3 linked regions of the Homo sapiens genome follow. The protein of the gene in region 1 purifies or fractionates together with the protein of each later gene. This does not show direct contact. Each region holds a gene or a part of one and is shown in the gene's direction. Other genes may lie near its edges.

Region 1 (7,062 bases):
CCGACCGCCGCCTGCGGCCTTGGTGCCGGGAGCAACCGACTGTAAGGTTCGCAGGGCTCCGCCCGCCTCAGCCGGGCTCCACCCCACACAAGCCCCGCCCCAGAACCCCGCCCCCTTCCAGCCCGGCCAGCTTCCGTGCAGGCCCCCAGCCTGCTCTAGCCCCGCGCTGCACGCTCTCGAGGCCCTGCCGTGTCCCGCCCTCGGGCTCCAAGGCCTGAACTAACAACTGAGGCGGGAGAACCAGCACGAAGGTTACTCCAAGTCCCCGACCCCTGTCCCTCTCAAACTGGGCTCAAGGTCAACCTGGCCTCTCTATATGCTCTGGAGGTCCCGTCAGAGGGTTTTTGAGGAAGAAACCCCGCACATCAGTCGCATCCTCTTCCCCCATCTCCTTGGCCCTGCCCCCTTTCCTGGACTCCTGGCCCTAGAGACGCAGGTTCTAGCCTGTGGAGTGCCCTGCGTTCTCAGAAAAATGTCCTCTCTTGCTGGTCCCCCGTCACCGTCGGTAGTGGGTGCGGTCATTCCTGGGGGCTACGTGAGCCGGGAAATGGTGACCACTTTACCAGAATGGCTCTGGCCTCCTCGGATCCCGCACCACCTGCGGAGGTAGGCACCCTCGCGTGTTACTGCTAAGAAAACTGAGGCCCGAGCGCACAGCTGGAGCCCAGACTGCAGCTCGGCATTCGTCCTGCACGCGGCGGCAGCCAAGCCTGGGAGAACTTTGTCCGCGGTAGCCCAGAGAGCTGTGCAGTGGGGGTCCATAGTGATCCCCCGCCCCTCTCCAGGCCGAGAGAGCCTGATTCATTGTGCAAGACTGAGTCTTATCCCTCTCAAGGGCATAGGGGAGTGGGAAAGTGTCTGAGCCTCTAGGAAGCTCAGAAATGATGCCTCGTCCTACTGCTGGAGAAATTGCTGTCCAGTGGCGGGGATCCGGTGGTTCCAGGTCCTCAACGCCCGGAGCCCGACCTTCCCCAGGGTCCAGCGCTCTTTCCTCAACGGCAGAAATGAGGCCTTGCCGGGAGGGAGTCTTCCAAGGGGGGTTCCCGAATCGGTGCTGCAGTGGGGGTTTTGAAGGGTGAGGAAGAAGGAGAGGAGGATTTCCGAGCCTTGGGACGGACACCTGAAGCGCCGCCCAGGGGCTTGGTCTAAATCGGGGGATGAGAGTCAAAAGGCCCAACCCCTCCATGCTCGCGGCTTCCTCCTTCTCCAGATGTGTACCTCCCTACGAGCACCGGCCCGGAATGCAGTGTGCTGTTACAACTCCCCCGCCGTCATACTACCCATATCCGAACCTTAGGTAAGTCTAACGCGCACACACTCATTTGCACACGCACCCTGAAGGCTTGGTGAGGCGGGGCTGGGGGAGGATGTCTGGTAGACGGGATGAGAACGCTCCGCGGTGCACTGACAGGCACATACCACGAGGGGGAGCTAGTGGCATGGAGCAGTCAAAGGTGGTAAGGACAGAGGACCTTAAGAGAGGGCTAGGAGGCCGGTATTGAAGGGTTACAGGTTGGCAGTGGGCTTACAGCCAAAGGCGTTGGTTCAGAGCTTGAAGTAATGAGTAAGAAGTCGATGTTAAGGAGGAAATATTGGGTATCAGCAACTTAACAGTAGAACCTAAGGTCAGGAGGTCAGTATTGGAACCCAAGGTCAGTGCTATAGACAAAGTGTAGGGATAAGGTTAGCATTGCAAACTGGAGTCAGATATTCACTTTGACATATGAGGATCCAAAACGGCTGACCCATCTCTTCCTGTAGATGGGACACAAGTCACTTCAAGAAGTCTGGTGGTCCCCAGAGAAACAACTATGTTATCCATCCTGAGTTTGTGTCTGAGACCTATCCCGACTATCGTTGCTGGTAGAGCCTGGGCTTGCTGTGCCAAGGGGGCAGAGCAATAAATAAACTCTTCAACCCCAAAGCCTGCCTCCTGTGTCCTTACCCAGCAGGATCTGGAAGTGAAGGGCCAGTCACTCAGGCCTCTATCAAACCCCTTCAACTGAGATGCAATTTTTCTCAAAGTCACCCTTCCCTGGGCCCTTCCAACCCCATCATCTCAGTACATCCCTGAGTGCCCTCCTGACACAGAACAGTAGCCTTATATCCAGCTGCTATCCTCCTCCCCTGAATCCCAGAGCCCAAACGGATGGGTCCACCCTGCAATGCAGGCAGGAGCCATCTACTTTCCACCCCACGAAGACCCTCCAGCTAACATTTCTTCAGTATGCTCCCAAACTTAGATGCCCTCCCACTCATCAGAGGACCCAGAATCCTTCCTTCCACAGTCAAAGACCTATCCCTACACCCAAAGCTCTTGATCTCTGCTTCCAGGAGTCCCCATCACAGCCTCCCAAAAGCCTCTCTGTGCTCAGACACCCTTGCTGCACAAGGTGTGTCCCCCATTCCAAGTCCAACTGGTCAAAACATAATTTTGGAGGGTCTCATGACAAAGAAATTTCAAGTTGCAAAACAAAGCCCTGTTTCTCTGCCCCTCAGGGAGCGAGAAGGGGCCATTCTAAAATCTCTGTGATCTTCAGTATTTTTATTTCTGCATCAAATAGATATGAAACCAGCTGGGTGCAGAGGCTCACACCTGTAATCTCACCACTTTGGGAGGCAGAGGCAGGAGGATCACTTGAGCCCAGGAATTCGATACCAGCTGGGGCAACATAAAGAGACCCCTTCTCTACAAAAAAATTTAAAAATTAGCAGGGTATGGTGGCACACACATGTGGTCCAAGTTACTCAGGAGCCTGAGGCGGGAGGGGATAGCTTGAACCAAGGACATTGAGGCTGCAGTGAGCTATGTTAACGCCACTGCACTCCAGCCTGGGCGACAGAGCGAGACCCTCTCTCAAAAAAATAAAGACCGGACGCGGTGGCCCACACTTGTAATCCCAGCACTTTGGGAGGCCGAGGCAGGTAGATCACCTGAGGTCAGGAGTTTGAGACCAGCCTGACCAACATGGTGAAACTCTGTCTCTACTAAAAATACAAAATTAGCCAGGCGCGGTGGTGCGTGCCTGTAATCCCAGCTACTTGGGAGGCTGAGGCAGGAGAATTGCTTGAACCCGGGAGGCGGAGTTTGCAGTGAGCTGAGATCGTGCCATTGTACTCCAGCCTGGGCAACAAGAACGAAACTCAAAAATAAATAAATATAAAAATAAAATAAAATAAAAAAGAAATGAAACCTCAGAGTCTTGCCCAGCCCCCGGGGAGAGGGGCATGGCGGGGCACACCCACTTTCCCGCAGCTTGGGCATTTCTAACTAAAGGCTGTAACTTAGGAGGAGGGGCTGGACCCTATAAATAACTAGTCTGGGGGTAGCGGTCTGGGAGGCGGGTGACGTTGCAAAACACCGAGCAGAAACCGGTCTTCTCAGTCCCTGACCTCGGACACCGCTGGTTTGGTCCGGTGGGAACCGACAGCTTGGACTCGCGGCGGGTTGGAACTACAGCTCCCTCCGTGGGGCCCTCGATTGGAAGCACCTGCATTGGGAGCTGAGATACTCGCGGAATTCCGCCACCACTTTTCCGTATGGAAAGCTGAGGGCTTGTGAGAGCGTTATACCGATATGGCCTCCACCTGTCCAAACCGGGAAGGAAGGAATTCCAATGGCCAGCTCTGCTCCTTTACCCTGCAGCTCTCTCCCTCTCATCCTCATTCCAAACCTAGCCTAGAGGTGCAAGAACCCCAACCTTCCGCAGCTGCTCCTTTCTGCAGAACTACATGTCCCAGCAGGCCTGGGGCCGAGCCCCGCCCGCTTGCGGGTTAGCAGTGGCCCAGGAGGGGCGGGCCCGCCGGCGGGAGTCGGAGCCGCGGGGCGCAGGACTGAGCAAGCCTGAAATGCCAGGGGCAGAGCACAGAGCGGTGGGAGGAAGGTGGGGCTGAGGGGCGGGGCCACAGATCCGCCTGATAACCTGGGAGGAGGGGTCGAACGTCAAGGGCAGGGCTGGACTCTGAGGCCCGAGACGAGACTGGATGACTGGGGCGTGGCCGAGGAACCCCAGGGCGGGACCCGAGGAGGGGCTGTGCCCTGCCAGACAGAGCCCCGCGCGGCGCGGCGGCAGCTTCACTCTGGTTCAAGCGCAGGGGATCGGCGGGAAGCTCTTTCACCCCCGCTTCTGCCGGGCTGTAACTGCAATGGGTGAGCCCAGCGGGAGGGCTGTGGGGGGCGGGGGGCTGCTGAAGGAGCACGATTCCTGAACTTTCGCTCCCACCGATGAATGGGTGGAGCGAGCCTGAACACCTGGGCCCATCCCACGGCCGCGATTCCCGCGGGGCGACAGGTCCCTTGACCTCGGTCGGCCCCTTCGGACAGTATAGCCTTCAGGGCGGGGTAGGGAGGGCGGCTGTGGAGTATTCCAGGCTATGTAGGCAGTCACTCGATCCCCGCGGATACCGTCGCCTGGCAGGAGAGGGAGATGGGCCGGATCGAGTTGCCTTTGACATTTCCATCCCCCCGGGAACTGTGTCCAACTAACGATTCTACTTGGAATGGCCTCCCCTCAGTTGAGTCGGGCGGGGCCCTCCCCCTCAGACCAGACTAGCTGTGGCAGCCAAGGCTGAGGTTGAGTGTCCGGTGGGGAGAGGCTCAGCAGGGGCAGAGCCCAGACTCCACCTGGCGGAGGCGGCAGATTACAGAGGTCTCTGGCACCACTGTTAACACCGGAACCACAGACTTCCTCCCCCAAAGCCCCGGTACCAGATGCCATTAAAATTGCCCTCTTTGCTGCCCTCGTGGTCTTCGTGGTCCGCGTGGAGCAAGCAGCAGCACCAGCCCTTGGAAAGACAGGCCTCACCATGCCATGTCCATCTGATGGAAGCTGGTCCCACCAGCTCAGCCCCAGGGCTCCTTTCTGCTACTGCATTCAGGCAGCCAGGTCAGATCATTATCTCCCATCTCCTAAAACTTACACTGTGGAGAGCTGGGCTGGGATTTTAGATCCAGGCAGCCTTGATACCTGGCTAACTTCAGACAAGTTCCTTTTTCTGTTTGGGCCACGTTTCCTCACCTGTAAAATGGACACTGCAGCTATGTCTGCTGTTCCACATTGTTGATAGAACTGGATGCTGTGGTGACATTTGGGACACTATCATGGTGCCTGGGGTGGGTGGGTGCCCAGGCCTGTGGGCTTCTGTCTTTCATCAAAGAACTTCAGATCCCAGAAAATTAAGATTCTCAAAACATAACTGTCGGAAAGGGCTTTTGAATCCACCTTGGTGGCCTCTTCCTGCCTCCAGGGCTCATGAGATAGGCTGACTTCATATGAAAGTTTTGAGGATGAGGAAGTCTCTCTCCTCTTCAGATACTGACCCTCTCTCTCCTTATTTCCTTGGTGCCCAGAATAGGGCTTTGGTTATCTTGAATGAATGAATATAAACTCACAGGTGTGATCTGAGCCACCTAAAGCCTTCTTTGGGTTCTGCTCAGCTTGAGGGCATCACCTAAAGGCCACTGGCTGCATTTTCCAGGAGGTGTTTTCTAAGCTGTATCTATATAGGAATGGGGAGGAAAGCTAAGTCATTGTAGACTGAGAGAAAGGGAATAAGAGTCTGTTCCAGACCAGCTAGGGCTGACAAGCTTAGGCAGCTGGGGGCAGAGGGCACTGAGAATGAGGCCCTGAGCTAGCACCGTGTGGGAAGTGCCTATGGGAGGAGCTGTGTATTGACATTTAGGATCAAATTCTGCTCCACACCTTGCATTCTTGCATGGGGGAGGTGAAAAACCTGAGTATTTCCGGCATCTCCTTGGAAGTCCCTGGGGACTTAGAGACAGACACTGGCATCTGGGAGGAGGCTAATTACTGTTTGCTAGTCTCCTTCTCTTCTTCCCCCGAGCTGGAGCAGTTGGGCAACCAACTGGCTGGCTGTGTGTATGCCCGTGTGTGCACCTGGGTGGTGCTATTTCTTTGTTGGACTCTGCTCTGAAGCCTGGGACAGGAACGGTCAGTGGCCTTGAGTGGCAGAGTAGGACACACCTCTTCCCCTGAGCCTGTGTTTCCCTGTAGTCATATCTGTATTTTTTTTTTTTTTTTGAGATAGGGTCTCACTTTGTCACCTAGGCTGGAGTGCAGTGGCACAATCTTGGCTCACTGCAGCCTTGACCTCCTGGGCTCAAGCGACCCTCCCACCTCAGCCCCCCAAGTAGCTGGGACTACAGGTGCACACCACCATGCCTGGCTAATTTTTTTTTTTTTTTGTATTTTTGGTAGAGACAGGGTTTCAACATGTTGCCCAGGCTGGTCTCAAACTCCTGAGCTCAAGAGATCTGCCCTCCTTGGCCTCCCAAAGTGCTAGGATTACAGGCATGAGCACCGTGCATGGCCTCATATCTGGATATTTAGCATATAGTGTGTCAGAGTTTATGTGTGTTAGTGGTAGTGGTGGGTGTCTGATCCCTGGAGAGCAGGTAGGTGGAGGAGGTGCGCTGGGCCAAGCTAGGTGGGTGAAATCTCCTGAAGCAGGTGGCCTAAAGGATTTAGGTTGGGGAAGGAACGAGCTTGGTAATCACAAGATAGGCTTGGCTGGAAATGGAATCAGAATGGTAGCTGAGAACACATCATGCCTGGAGCCTCCAGTGCAAAGCAAACACTTTTAAATTTCATCATGGAAGCAATGAGCAGCTCTCGAAGCTAGGGATAGATATGGTTTGATAAGTGCTTTAGAAAGATCACTATGGTTGCCGTGATCAGAAGGCACTGGTGAGAAAGAAGTTAGAGTCAGAGAGGCCTGTTGGGGGAAGCGTTTGGTAATACAGGGGAGAAGTGACAGTGCCCAAACTATGACAGAAACAGGACAGTGGGTGAAACAGAGCGAGGAAGTAGCTGGCCCACAGATGTGGTGCCAGGAGCAAAGCAGGAAGGCAGGCATGGAAATGGATTTGGTGATGGATGATGGCTGAGAGCAGGGTGAGTTTGAGGGCAAAGAGAAGCAGATGTGAGAAACAACTGGCCCCCCATGCCAGGCTCCTGCCCCAGGCCCTAATGTCTGAACCCAACTCTACCTCCCTCCAAACCAGGCCCTGGGACTAAGTCTGGCTTTGGGTGTCTTCTTCAA
Region 2 (6,832 bases), on another chromosome or scaffold:
TCTTTGTCTAAAAGTCTCCCCAACTGTAGAATGAGATGGTAGAACTGGATCAGCATTTCCCAAATTTCTGTCATTCAAGTATCACCACTGTTGCTTTATTCTTGTACTACAGGTACTATCATACACTTACTATTTATCTACTCTTTTTTAAAAGAATATAAAAAGGAAACCATACATTGCTTACTGTGAGTGGAAAGTCAGTGTCACTTTTAATAAAAGTTGCAGTAATGAAAAGGTCATCATGAAAATAAACACATAACTGACAAAATAAGAAATGTCTGTGTAATGCCTCCAATCCTCCCAAGCATAATTCTGGGAAATAATCTACTAGATTGTCAGAGGCTTTGTCTAAGATAAACAAAGCTGAACAGTAGTTAAAATTGTAAGGACAGAATTTAATCAGTCATAACTATTGCAATAGGGAAAACAATCTAGTATGAACTGAGCTCAATATCGATTTGTACGAAAAGTAATTGGGCATTTTGAAAAGAACATGAGGGAATAGGGAGAAGGACAAGCAGCAGTTTAACAGAATCAGGGAAGTGAAAAATGACAAAGGGTTGGTCAGTGTAAGTGACATTAGGCCAGCTGTGTCTGCTAGCTGCCAATTGCCAAAGTTAGGATGCCGTTCTCCCAAAGAGACTGGGAGACAGAAGCTCTATCCTCAGGTGTTGGATGAAACAAAAACACAGTAAATATTTTGGCAGCCTTGAGTTTTCTCAGGCAGGCACTTTAAGAGGGGGTAGTGGGGCCAGGGTCACCTTAGGTAGGGGCCCCCAACTCCTAGGCTGCGGACCAGTACTGGTCTGTGGCCTGTCAGGAACCAAGCAGTGGCATTAGATTCTCACAGGAGCTTGAAATCTGCTGTGAACTGTGCATGCGGGGGATCTAGGTTGCATGCTCCTTATAAGAATCTAACGCCTGATGATCTAAGGTGGAACAGTTTCATCCTCCATTTTTTTTTCTTTTTTGAGATAGAGTCTTTCTCTGTTGCCCAGGCTGGCATGCAGTAGCACAGTCTCAGCTCACTGCAACCTCTGCCTCCCGGGTTTAAGTGATTCTCCTATTTCAGCCTCCTGAGTAGCTGGGATTACAGGCACGTGCCACCACACCTGGCTAATTTTTGTATTTTTAGTAGAGACGGGGTTTCACCATGTTGGCCAGGCTGGTCTCAAACTCTTGAGCTCAAGTGATCTGCCCACTTCGACCTCCCAAAGTGCTGGGATTACAGGCCTGAGCCACCACACCTGGCCAAAAATATCTGATTTTACTAGACAATCCTATTGTTATTTATTTTTTATTTTTTGAGACAGAGTCTTGCTCTGTCACCCAGGCTGGAGTGCAGTGGTGTGATCTCAGCTCACTGCAGCCTCTGCCTCCCGGGTTCAAGCGATTCTTGTGCCTCAGCCTCCTGAGTAGCTGGGATTACAGGCGAGCACCACCATCCCTGGCTAATTTTTGTATTTTTAGTAGAGATGGAGTTTCACCAAGTTGGCCAGACTGGTCTTGAACTCGTGGCCTCAAGTGATCTGCCCACCTCGGCGTCCCAAAGTGCTGGGATTACAGGTGTGAGCCACCACGCCAGGCCTTCATCATAGAATTATTGCCCACCCCCACCACCCTGTCCGTGACAAAATCGTCTTCCATGAAACTGGTCTCTGGTGCCAAAAAGCCTGGGAACTGGTGATCTTAAGGATGTGACGTTGAATTATTAGAAACTGTGTTGCTGTCTGTTCAGTCTTTATAGGCCAAGACTGAAGCCTAGTTGAGAAGAGGGCTCATAGGAGCCTGGCTAAGTTCCATCAAGAAGAGAATCACTATCAGCTTCTATACCTTAGCCCCTGCCCGCACCCCCCCACCCCCAAAAAGCATCAATATTGTGACTATATACCAGGTGTTTCACAAAGTTATGAAGTAGTTATAATTAATATCCTCATTAAAAGGTTAAGAAAACTGAGGCTCAGAAAGGTTAAGTTGTCTGCCCAAGGTTCCACAGCCAGAAGTAGCAGTGCTGGGATTTGAACCTAGGTCTAAGTCTCACTGGTTCCAGAATTCACTGTCGTCCAAAGTGCATAGCTCCATTCTATGTTTCTAGGCTCTGTCTTTAAGCCATCCCTCTCCTGCACATGCCCATTTTACGAATGCCTATGGTCCCGAGTACTAAATCTGGACAAGTATGTGACCCTGGGCAGTGGATCTCGGCTCTGGCTGTACCACCTGGGGAGCTTGAAAAACACTGATGCCTGGGCCTCACCCCTAGAAGCTCTAAGGTAACAGGTGTGGAGTGCAACCCAGAGGGATTTTTAGAAGATTCCAGGTGATCTCTGTCAGGAGCCAGGTTTGAGACCCACTGCGCTAGGAGTCTTCACAGTTATCATCCCATTTGATGCTTATAAGAGCCCTGTGAGAAAGGCAGGCAAGTGGCAATCCCCATGTCCTGCTGACGAAGAAAAGTGTTGAGATGCTAAGGCTCAGACAGTAAGATCTGGATAGAAAACAAAGTTTCTGACCTCTAGCTCTGAGTTCTCTGCCTAAAGGTTCTGCTCTACAAGGCATAATTTAAAAAAAAAAAAAGCAACATCTCCAAGAAGAGCAGCTTAATTTCTCTTGTACAGTACAAGTCACTTCTCACCCCCATGGAACACATGGAGGAGAGGTAGTACCTGCTTCAGCCACAGTACCCAAAACAAGGCCAGGGCATCCCAGGGAGGTGAGCAGTGACCCCCCTTTCTGACAAACTGTTCCCCTGGCAGAAGCCAAGGGAGGGCTAGGGGACAGGGGCCTGCAATTCTGTGATAGCGTTGGGGCCTGCTTTCCACGCCCACTTTTCTGCAACGGTTTGTGATCTGGACTCCCTGAGCACCCGTTGGGAGCTGGGGGCAGCCTAGGGAAGTCGGGACCTACTCCTGTACCCTTCCAAGGCAAGCATCCTGGGCCACCTAGCCGTTTCAGGGTCCAGGCCATGGGACCCCCTGTGCATAACACTGGGCCCAACAGCCTGGTCGGGCCCTGATGTTTGCTCACTGATGATGTGCAGAGGAGAGGGGGCAGTTTCCCACTTCTGGGAGAAGAGAGGGCACTGTCGGCCCTTGGCAGACTTGGGGGGCGTCACTGCCCATATGTGGGGGACGTCACTGCTCACCTTGAGGGACTTAAGGGTTCCCAGTGGTGGGCATTCGAGAGGATACTGTCCACATCTGGGGCCAGCAAAGGACCCCTGTACCTCAACTGGAAGGCCAGAGGTTCACCTCAGCCTTGCAGTCATGAGGCAGCAGAGGGCCCCTACCCACTCCAACCCCCTAAAAAATGCAACAATCCCAGGCACACCTTAGGCCGCAGCCTGGCTGTGACCGAACAGACGGCGGCCACACCCCCGGGGAGAGGCCGGGTGGGGACCGCAGGGCGCAGCTCTCCCAGTCCCACCCTTCGGCGCAGGGCTCCGGCCAACACAGCCCTCCAGGCCGCCTACTCTCCAGCCAGCCGGCTCCACGGACCCACGGAAGGGCAAGGGGGCGGCCTCGGGGCGGCGGGACAGTTGTCGGAGGGCGCCCTCCAGGCCCAAGCCGCCTTCTCCGGCCCCCGCCATGGCCCGGGGCGGCAGTCAGAGCTGGAGCTCCGGGGAATCAGACGGGCAGCCAAAGGAGCAGACGCCCGAGAAGCCCAGGTGAGCGGCTGGGCCGCGCCGGACGGGCGTCGGGGGTCTGGGCCGCGAACCCGCCGCGGGGCCGCCGGAACCTCCGCGAAGGTTCTAGGCCTTTGTGGCGTCACCGTCTCCTTGCGGAAGCTTCCGCCGGCGCCGAATAAAACCCGCCGCGGAGGAGCCGGTGGCTCTAGTGCGGTGGAGCCAGGCGTGGAAGTCGGTCCGGCGCGGGGCGGGGGGCGGGCGGGAGCTACAAGCGGCGGCGGCGGCGGCGACCGTGACCGTGACGCGCGAGCGGGCGGCGGGGGCGCGGGCCAGGGGCGCGGGCCAGGGTGCCGGCAGGGGCGTCCGGGGCGCTCTGACCGGCCTCGCCCGCCCCCCCCGCAGACACAAGATGGTGAAGGAGACCCAGTACTATGACATCCTGGGCGTGAAGCCCAGCGCGTCCCCGGAGGAGATCAAGAAGGCCTATCGGAAGCTGGCGCTCAAGTACCACCCGGACAAGAACCCGGATGAGGGCGAGAAGGTGCGGGGCGGCGCGGGGCACGGGCCGGGCTCCCGAGGGGCCAAGGGTTATTAAGCCAGGAGCATTGAAGGCGACGGGAAACCTGAGCCGCGTTTGTTGGGGAGGCTGTCGCCAGGCGCCTCGGGGCCAGGCCGGGCAGAGGTGGCGGGAGACCCTGGGCGCCGTGCGGCGCGGTCGGTGGAGGGCGCTTCGCCCGCGGAGGAGGCATGTGGTGCGGCACTTGGGTCCCTCGCGAGTCCCTGCCGAGCCCATTCATTCCTCCATTCGCTCCACAAGTGTTTGGGTAGCCCCTGCCGTGCGCGCCGGACTAGTTCTCATAGGGTGTGTTGGTTCCCTGTGGGAGAGGCGGCCTGGGAATCGGGAAACTGAGGCACACACAAACAGTTGTTTACTTGCTGGGAACGACTGGCTCATATTCTCTGTTGATGCATAAACCCTAGGGATGAGTGTCTTTAATCTGAGCTGGTACCTTGGACAAACGCCGTGCCTCTCTTGAGAATGACTAGCTGGATTTGTTCTGTGCACCTACTGCCTACCTGATAAAAGCGTCAGATAGTGAATAATCCCATTTTCTTTATTAAACAGGGACACGGACATCTGCAACCTGACATCAGCTTGTACTCATATTCTGGGTTTTCGGTGACAAGTGACACACAGTTGATCATAAGTACCAATCATAGACTGAAAATGCTCTGCATTTTAGAGACAGAAGTTAAAAGCTTTTCCATCCTGTTTACAGAAAGTTTGCTTTTTATCTCTAAAGAGGCTCATGACCCACCTGAATAGGTGAATTGAAGGATGAGGCATTGCAAGGAAAGGCTGCTAACCCTCCCGTTCCTCCTTTCACTTCTTGCCATTTTCTTACAAAACTTTGGTTGTTCCGCATGGGTCTTGAGAGGTGGGGCCGTTATAGTAGCTGATAGCAGTGTCACTTGGGCCACGTTTGAAACCACACCAATCACCCATGTAGCATTTAAGACCTGTGGAAACGACGCTGGAATCAAAATACCTGTCTGTGTTAGTTGTTCCAAGCTGGAGAAAGCTACTTCAGGACGGTTGGCTGAATGGCAACAGTGATGGAATATTTATATTTAGCCACATGTGCTGAATGTGGCTGTCACAAGTTTAAAATGCTTTCCTGTAAGACCATTTGTCTGTTACTCACTTGCGTTCTTTCTCATCTATATTTAGATGGCTTACTGTAGCTTTTAAAGGCACTGGCGTTTTACATGGTGCTGGTGATTCATCCACCTGCTCCCTACATTCATTGTGGTCCGCTTCTGACAGTCTCCTTTAAGGAGAGCTTGTAGGCTTCTAATTTCACATTTCAGCAAGCTGGCTAAAGACATGTGGGAAAGCCTGACCCTGGATTCAGGTCAAATCTCAGCACTCACAAGAGTAAGTTCATGCCTCTGTGTATACAGTTAGAGCTGAATATGCTTTTGTTCTGAAGCTTTTATTTTTAAAAAATTAGACTTGACCTGTACTACATATGTGTAGGTTTCACCCTGTCTATACCTGTCTGGGCAGGTTGTTTGGTTTGTTTTAAACTAATATTTATTCATAGCCAGGCACTGAGTTAGTGTCACATAAATGAGGCCCTTGGCAGTGAGGTCTGGCAGGCCCATCAGCTTGGAGGGAAGGGTTCTGTGATGTGCCCATTGCCAGGAATACTTTCCTTCCTCTACCTTCATGGAAGGGGATAAAACTCTTTAGTTCTCAGCTAAAACATCTTCCAGGAGGCTGCCTCTGCCTCATAGACTGAACCACAGGCCCAACGTGCATCCTACTTTAATGGTGATTACTTGTTTGATTAACTGTATTCCTTTAATGGTGATTACTTGTTTGATAACTGTATTACCTGCCATAATGTAAGCAGGGCAGTGACTGTGCCCCCATGGCCACTTATGGGGTGAGTATCTAGCTGTGCAGGGTAGGTGCTAAAATGTTTGTTAGCTGGCTGAGTAAATGCACTTTAAAAAATTGTGTGTAGGAGGAGAGGGCCCTATAAAGGCACAAATTGGAAGGGAAATTGCAGTGAAAGGGATATTGGGAGGAGAGTGGCAATTTAGATCGGAAATCAAAGAGGATGAGGAGACTGGGGACACAATTTATAGAAACGGCTGTAGAGTTCCCCAGAGAGAGCTCATTCATTCATTCATTCATTCATTCAACAAATACCTCCTCTTCTGGTCCCCACTGTGTGCTGGGTGCACTGTGCAGGCCTTTTGTGAGTGTGTATGTGAGTGTGTGTGTGAGTGTGTATGTGAGTGTGTGAGTGTGTGAGTGTGTGTGTGAGTGTGTATGTGAGTGTGTATGTGTGTGTAGTTCTTTTCCACTTTATCACAGGTAGAACCTTTAAATTTTTTTTTCCTCCTAAGTTCGTCACTGTATTATTAACGTCTCTTCAAAAATAGACTACACCAGTTCTTTACCCCTTGCTGGGAAAACTGAGAAGGCCGTTGAAATGTTGGTCTTTGTTTTTTGCCCTGTTGTCCCCTGTTGCTAAGCATTGGGGCACCTTGTGTTTTTTGGGCACTCTGTATGGAGTCTGTACTTCTCTGCGGGTGTTTTTTTTTTGTTTTTTGTTTTTTTTGCAAGATGCATGGGTGGTAGGTAGTGGGTCACCAAGATAGTCCCTTTTAGGGGCAATGATGTGGGGTATA
Region 3 (7,026 bases), on another chromosome or scaffold:
TCCCATGCGTTGGTATTTTCTTGCCAAGTAGCTAAGTCACCTACATCAGGTGACTGATGAGTAAAAGGCATATCTTGTGTAGCTGCCAGTCTATTAACCTATTTCCTGAGATGGCAAAATGATCATTGTCTCTTCTCAATAACAATTTTCTGAGTTTTCCTTACAGTTGGTGTCACATCCTTAAAATAGTCGGTTCCAGTTGTTGTAAAGTGTTCTGTTGTACTGCCTCATTCCATTCTCACCCTCGGTCTTTACACCTGTGGGCGCATCCTCATTCTAAGAAGTCCACTCTTCAACATCTGTCTGTTTAGGAACTGATGAATAATTAACTGCAATTGGCAAAGTTACTTGGACCCCAACTTAATTTCTGTCCTTGGACAGATCTTCATACTCATCATTTTGAGGAATGAGAATATGGTTGCTAGGCAAGTATAAACTCAAAATAACTGGACCTGTGTTACGGCCATGGTGGGAATCAAAGCTTTCCAGTCTTCTCCCCACTCAGAGGCTCCAGGCTCTGCAGGTGGCTTCCTGGAGCTGGTGCTGTGCCTGTTCTGTTCCAGCACTGCTCATTCAGAGGCAGGCATGGGCTCCATCACCATTGCCAGCCATTGCACATGGGCCACTGCCGTGGTCTGCTCTTCAGGAATCTCTCCCCACAGTCCTTCCCACCTCACCCCCTACCAGTTGTATTTTTAAACATTAGAACCACACTCCGCACGATAAGGTCCTTGCACTTTTAGGAGGTACGTGGGAATGAAGACCAGATGGAGAACAGCAGATTCACATCTCCAATTTCACTACAGACTAGGAAATACACATGTTGACTAAAATGTCGAACAGAATTGATCACCATATTCCTCTCTTTTTTTTCTAAATTTAACTTGCTGAAGTTAAATGTTTATGTGATGAAATTGCACTCCATCCTCGTTTCTAGAGATATCATGAAAACCAGTAGTAAGATATTTCTGATGCACATTGTGTTTCTTAGACTAGGTTGAATACAGGCATGACGTGTTTGTTTGTTTGTTTGTTTTTGTCATTGTGGCAGATTGCTTGGTCAGAAGACAGGTCTGAGTCCCGACAATCCATTTCTGGATCCCTGCCTGCCAGTGGGACTCACAGATGTGGTGGAGAGGAACAGCCAAGTCTTACATGTCCGAGGAAGAGGAGACTGGGTGTCTTGTGGGGCAATGCTGAGCCCCCTGCTGGCTCGCTCCAACACCAGCCAGGCCTCACTCAATGGCATATATCAATCGCCTATTGACTTCAACAACAGCGAGTTCTACGGCTTCTCTGAGTTTTTTTATTGTACAGAGGATGTGTTGCGCATTGGTGGCCGCTACCATGGGCCAACATTTGCCAAGGCTGCTCAGGTAAATTATTAATGATAAACATGGCTTATGCTGGCAGCAGCCATTTATTGAATGCCTCACTCTGTGCCAGGTGCTGTGCAAAGGGCTTTGCATACAGAATCTCACTTGTTCTTTGCAGGAGCCCTTTGAACACTCATTTTACAGATGAGGAAGTGGACAGAGAACTTAAGGATCTAGCTATGCTGTACTGCCTTCTAATTAACTAAATTTATTTTCCATGGATGTCATACCACCCAAATTATTACCCAGGCATAAAATTTTTGTGTTGGCTAATGGTTTTTCTTCCAACTTTCCAATAGTCTTGTTTAATGTTTATGCCCAAGAAATGTCACCTCCAGTATTTTTCCTCTTGCTAGCTATTTTCTGTTGTAATGTGCTTTTGGAGATGATATCACCCAGAGGGGCAAGCCCATCTTTCTTTTGGGTTGAGGTATTAAGAGGCAGAGTGGTATGGGGTCCCTGGGAATATTAGATGTTGTAAAAAGCAATGATGGTGGAAGTTTGTTTAGATTTAAAATAGAGGAGTAAAAATTCACTCTGAGCATATATAGGACTTAAGCATCATATAAGTTTAAATCATTGGTACCTGGACAGATGAAAGTTTAGCCAGCTTTCTATCATTTTCTGCTTTATTTAGGGCCATCTCTTTGAATTGTTGCGTGTCTCTATCTTTTTCATCAGAGAAACGAATGGGAGAATCTGTCCTCATATTTCTTTTTTTCTTGAGATGGGGTCTCGCTCTGTAGCCCAGGCTGGAGTGCATTGGCATGATCTCAGCTCACTGCAACCTCTGCCTTCCGGGTTCAAGTGATTCTCCTGCCTCAGCCTCCCGAGTAGCTGGGATTACAGATGCCCACCACCATGCCTGGCTAATTTTTATTATTTTTAATAGAGATGGGGTTTTGCCATGTTGGCCAGGCTGGTTTGGAACTCCTGGCCTCAGGTGATCTGCCCGCCTTGGCCCCCCAAAGTGCTGAGATTACAGGCGTGAGTCACCGTACCCAGCCTCTCCTCATATTTCCCTCCCTCCCTCCCTTCCCTCCTTCTTCCCTGCCTACCTTTCTCTTTCTTTCTTACAATTCTCTAGGGTTCTCTTAGTGTAAGGCTTCCAGCAAAATAATATCTGCAGTATCTGTACTGTTCTGTTCCCAAAAGACAGTCCTTAAGAAATACTGTGGGACACCTGGTTTGTATTTGCTCCTTTCTCTCCAGCCTCCAGGACGACCTTCACGCTCCCTGTTTTTCTGGAGCCCAGAGCTCCCTAACTATCCATGGCCTGACTCTTTCTCTTATCTCAAAACTTCTTCAAATTCTATTCCCTTGAACACCAAAAGGCTCAAGTTATTGGGCTTAACATATTATCTTTTCCAGGTAAAAGCGATTTTTTTCCCTTACCTTTTTAACTTTGACTCAAACGTTATCTTCCCAGAGCCACCTTCTGGGACCACTCTATCCAAAATGACAACGCTCCCCATATTACCTGTTGCCCTTTCCTGCTTTATTTTTCCCTGAGCATTTATGTTATCCAACGTACCGTGTGTGTGTGTGTGTGTGTATGTGTGTGTGTGTGTGTGTGTGTGTGTGTGTTTATTGTCTGTCTCCTACCACTAGAATGTAAGCTTCCTGAGGACAGGAATTTTTGTCTGTTTTATTTACTGCATGATTCCCTGGCATCTAGAACAGCACCTGGCACATAGCAGACATACAAACCAAAAGGAATGATTATTTTGGTGAGAATTACAACACCGAGGGAGGCCAATGACAGGTTTCTAACCATCCTCTTCCATCTGCTCTCCCTGCTCATGTCAGTCCTATGTGGAGTAGAATGAAACTATCTTTGTCTTTTGACGTTGCTATTTGTTAGTCCTAACCTCAGCCCCTCTGAAGCCTAAGAGGCTCAGAAGCCACATCAAGCTGGCTTGGTGCTAGACATGGGATGACGGGAATAAACAGGGGTATGACGCAGTGTTTAGTGAATGAACACACCATTTCTGTTTTCCTTTGTCAGCTGGTAGCCCACAAGTAACTTTAGAAATGGAACAGCTGTGACTGTGGGGAAGGTAGAGAGTTTGCCTCCAAATTCATGTTGCACTATTTCTCTGTGGTTGATCCAGGATTACTGTGGCATGGCTTGGTCGGTACTAACTCAGAGATTCAAGAATGGCCTCTTTTCATCACATGCAGATGAGCATCGACTCAAGTAAGTTACTTCCCTTTCCTCCTTAGATGTGGACTTAAAATCTAGATGGCAGATTATAATGGAGAGTGAGCAATAATGCAGATTAGATTTCATGTTGAGGGAGCATTTGATTATTCCAGACTTGATTTTCTCAGGGATAGGGGCCAAAATAGTGAGCCTATTATAGCAAAGCCAGAAGAAATCAGTGGTTACCAAACAGAGTTCTCAACAAGTGATTTGACAACAAAAGTGATTTTTTTTTTTTTTTGAGACAGAGTCTCACTTTGTTGCCCAGGCTGGAGTGCAGTGGCATGATCTTAGCTCACTGCAACCTCCGCCTCCTGGGTTCCAGCGATTCTCCTGCCTCAGCCCCCCAAGTAGCTGGGACTATAGGCACGTGCCACCATGCCTGGCCAATTTTTGTATTTTTTTGTAGAGACGGGGTTTCGCAATGTTGCCAGGCTGGTCTTGAACTCCTGAGCTCAAGTGATCCGCCTGCCTCGCCCTCCCAGAGTGCTAGGATTACAGGTATGAGCCACCGGGCCCGGCCAAAAGTGATTTTTTTTTTAACTTTGTATTATAGATAATATCAAACATATAGAAAAGTAGAGAGAATAGCAACATAAACCCTCATGTAACTATCACACAGCTTCAACAAATAACATTTTGCCAGTATGGTTCATTGGTCCTTTCATTTTTAAATGTTTTAGTTAAAAATTGTTTAAAATTGCCGGGCATGGTGGCTCACACCTGTAATCCTAGTGCTTTGGGAGGCTGAGGTGGGTGGATCACCTGAGTTCAGGAGTTCAAGACCAGCCTGGCTAACATGGCGAAACCCTGTCTCCACTAAAAATACAAAAATTAGCAGGGTTTGGTGGCAGGTGCCTGTAATCCCAGCTACTCGGGAGGCTGAGGCAGGGAGAATTGCTTGAACCCAGGAGGTGGAGGTTGTAGTGAGCTGAGATCGCGCCACTGCACTCCAGCGTGGGTGACAGAGTGAGACTCTGTCTCAAAAAAAAACAAAAATTGTTTTAACATAAACAAAACTAGAATAGTGTAATCAACTCCTGTGTACCTGTCACCCTGCTTTCCTACTAACATTTATCAGCTCCTGGCCCATCTTGTTTTTATCTGTTTTCCCATCCACAATCCCCCTCTTACTTCAACTGGGTTGTTTTGAAGCTAATCCCAAACATCCTATAATTACATTTGTAGATATTTTAATATGCTCTCTGAAGATAGGGACTCTTAAAAAAAAGAAAAAGAAAAACACAGCCACAGTATCATTATTGCCTTTGTGGTAAACACAAGATAAGTAGGCTGACTTAGAAATAACCCACTTAGAGGTGAGGAAGGTGAAGCGGGAGGAGGTAGGTCTTTTAATAACTTGTGGGAATACGGAGTGGCTTATTGCAAAGGAAAGTATTAGAATTCTTTTCTCTTTTTTTAAAATTTAATTATTTTTGTCACACAGATATCAGTGTTTTAAATCGGCTTGGATGTACCAAGTCTTACATGAAGGATTCCACTTTCCCTATGACTACCCAAACCTGCGGACAGCCCAGCTGGTGTATGACCGAGAGGTTCAGTGGACGCTGGGAGCCATTCTATATAAAACACGATTCTTACCACTCAGGTAAAGTAAGACTGACCAATCTGGTATCTTGAGCTCAGAGGATATCAGTTGATGCCTCAGAATCGGTTTCTTTCTTTTTTTTTTTAACCAGCTTAGAATAGGTCTTAAGTGACCTTCCTCTCTACCCCCTCACAAAAACAAACTCCTTTACTTCCATGTGAGCCACTGTTACTACCAGGCATGCTCGAACAGAAAGAAGGTTGAGCATTACTGGTCTGGAGTCTCAGCTTTGCTGTTTCAGAAATCCAGCTTTATTTGTTTACTCACAACAAACCAGTCTTTAGGACTGAGCTCTTACTAATCACTTCCAAGATACTGACAAGCTAAAATGTCATTCTTGGGTTACCCTGGAAAACACATCTGACTAAAGAACAGGGGTAGGATGTCTAGAGCAATCTTTCATAACATACAGAGGCACTCCAGACATTGTGTCATTGACTTAGAAGGCTTTTTGGTGGGTCAGAATTAGAATAAAGGACGTGAGATGTTTTTAGTGGGGCTACTTTCATCAAACTCTGGTAGCCTGATACCTTACTTTTATGTACTGTCAGATATTTGGGACAATTTTTAGGTACCTGTACCCTGGACTATTTCAGATAAACTCAGATGAATTTTGTATCTTTGATGTCTGTTCCTCTAAACTCAATACCGTCAGCAGCCAGGCAGGCGACAGAAGTGAGGGAAGTGGGCTAGGTGGGGGTTGCCCACAACTGGAGCATGTATCCCAGTTAATGGGCTGGTTACTGTCACACACAAGCACTGTCCCAGCATTTGCCAGTTCTCATCTGTCCAGAAAAGTCAGAAATCCATATTTTTTATGAAGTCTTTCAGTTTAGAGATTCGCATTCTAGAAGAACACTGCAGGTCAAACCAGACAAAACTAGATCTGGATCTGGACTGCTGAAGAGTGGCTTCTGTTCTAGCCAGGTGGACCATTACACTTGGTTTTCATATCGCCTTATTTTTATCTGACTGTAATACAGTTGATCAGGTAACAGCTTTATTTAGATATATCCTAGATCCTAAGGAAACATAGTACCTTTATTTTTTATTATTTTTTTGAGACAGGGTCTTGCTCTGTTGCCCAGGCTGAGTGTGGTGGCAGTGCCGTGTTCATAGCTCACTGCAACCTTGAACTCCTGGGCTCAAGTGATTCTCCTGCCTCAGCCTTCTGAGTAGCTGGGAATACAGGTGCTCGCCACCATGCCCAGCTAATTTTTTGATTTTTCTTTTGCAGAGATGGGGTCTTGTTATGTTGACCAGGCTGGTTTTGAACTCCTGGCTTCAAGCAATTCTCCTGGCCTGGCCTCCCAAAGTGCTTTGATTACAAGCATGTGCCACTGCACTTGGCTGCATAGCAACTTTAAAAAAAGGATTTAGACACACACACTCTGATTTCTTTATTGGATTCAGGGGATACCCTATTCTCATTAGTACTGTATTTATAAGCCATATTTTAAGACTTATGTTACAGGTGATCAATCTAGCCTTTCTGTTCATTTTTTGGGATTCAATTTCAAAGGCCTTCCCATCTTGGCTTAGATTCTGGAGGGTGTAAGCCTGGAGGTCCCTTCTGGGGGCCGTGGGAAGGAAGACACAGAAGGGCTCCTGGGGCGGGGGATGTTCTTCAGCTTTGCCTGCTCTGTGGAGCTGGTGTCATAAAATGTTTATGTGGATGGAATAAATGTGATAACACTACTGGGCCTTTCAAATCAGTAAATGTCTCCCTTTGAAACTTAACAGTTTTTTCCACCTACAAATTCTTAATTCTTCCCTAGGGATCTTCGGCAGGAAGGTGTCCGACAAGCCCATGGTAGCTGGTTCCGTCTCTCCTT

Evidence for each region. The genes of interacting proteins can lie anywhere in the genome.
Region 2: the proteins of MYORG (region 1) and DNAJA4 purify together in Homo sapiens (affinity purification with mass spectrometry; 2 studies listed by BioGRID and IntAct, with this or other methods). This does not show direct contact.
Region 3: the proteins of MYORG (region 1) and ENTPD7 purify together in Homo sapiens (affinity purification with mass spectrometry; 2 studies listed by BioGRID and IntAct, with this or other methods). This does not show direct contact.

Annotation. Positions count from the first base shown.
Region 1 is NC_000009.12:34,373,881-34,380,942, reverse strand, and holds the start of MYORG (myogenesis-regulating glycosidase), read left to right. Parts: upstream 1-4,044; 5' UTR 4,045-4,150; exon of another isoform or gene 4,151-4,886; intron 4,887-7,062. Other genes in the region: SPMIP6 (sperm microtubule inner protein 6), read left to right, coding at 1-46, 1,211-1,297, 1,762-1,867.
Region 2 is NC_000015.10:78,260,730-78,267,561, forward strand, and holds the start of DNAJA4 (dnaJ homolog subfamily A member 4), read left to right. Parts: upstream 1-3,832; 5' UTR 3,833-4,027; coding exon of another isoform or gene 4,028-4,034; coding exon 4,035-4,166; intron 4,167-4,751; coding exon of another isoform or gene 4,752-4,805; exon of another isoform or gene 4,806-4,908; intron 4,909-5,488; exon of another isoform or gene 5,489-5,513; coding exon of another isoform or gene 5,514-5,564; exon of another isoform or gene 5,565-6,832.
Region 3 is NC_000010.11:99,697,483-99,704,508, forward strand, and holds part of ENTPD7 (ectonucleoside triphosphate diphosphohydrolase 7), read left to right. Parts: intron 1-1,051; coding exon 1,052-1,376; intron 1,377-3,490; coding exon 3,491-3,576; intron 3,577-5,029; coding exon 5,030-5,191; intron 5,192-6,969; coding exon 6,970-7,026. UniProt on the Homo sapiens protein: Catalyzes the hydrolysis of nucleoside triphosphates and diphosphates in a calcium- or magnesium-dependent manner. Preferentially hydrolyzes nucleoside 5'-triphosphates, with substrate preference for UTP > GTP > CTP.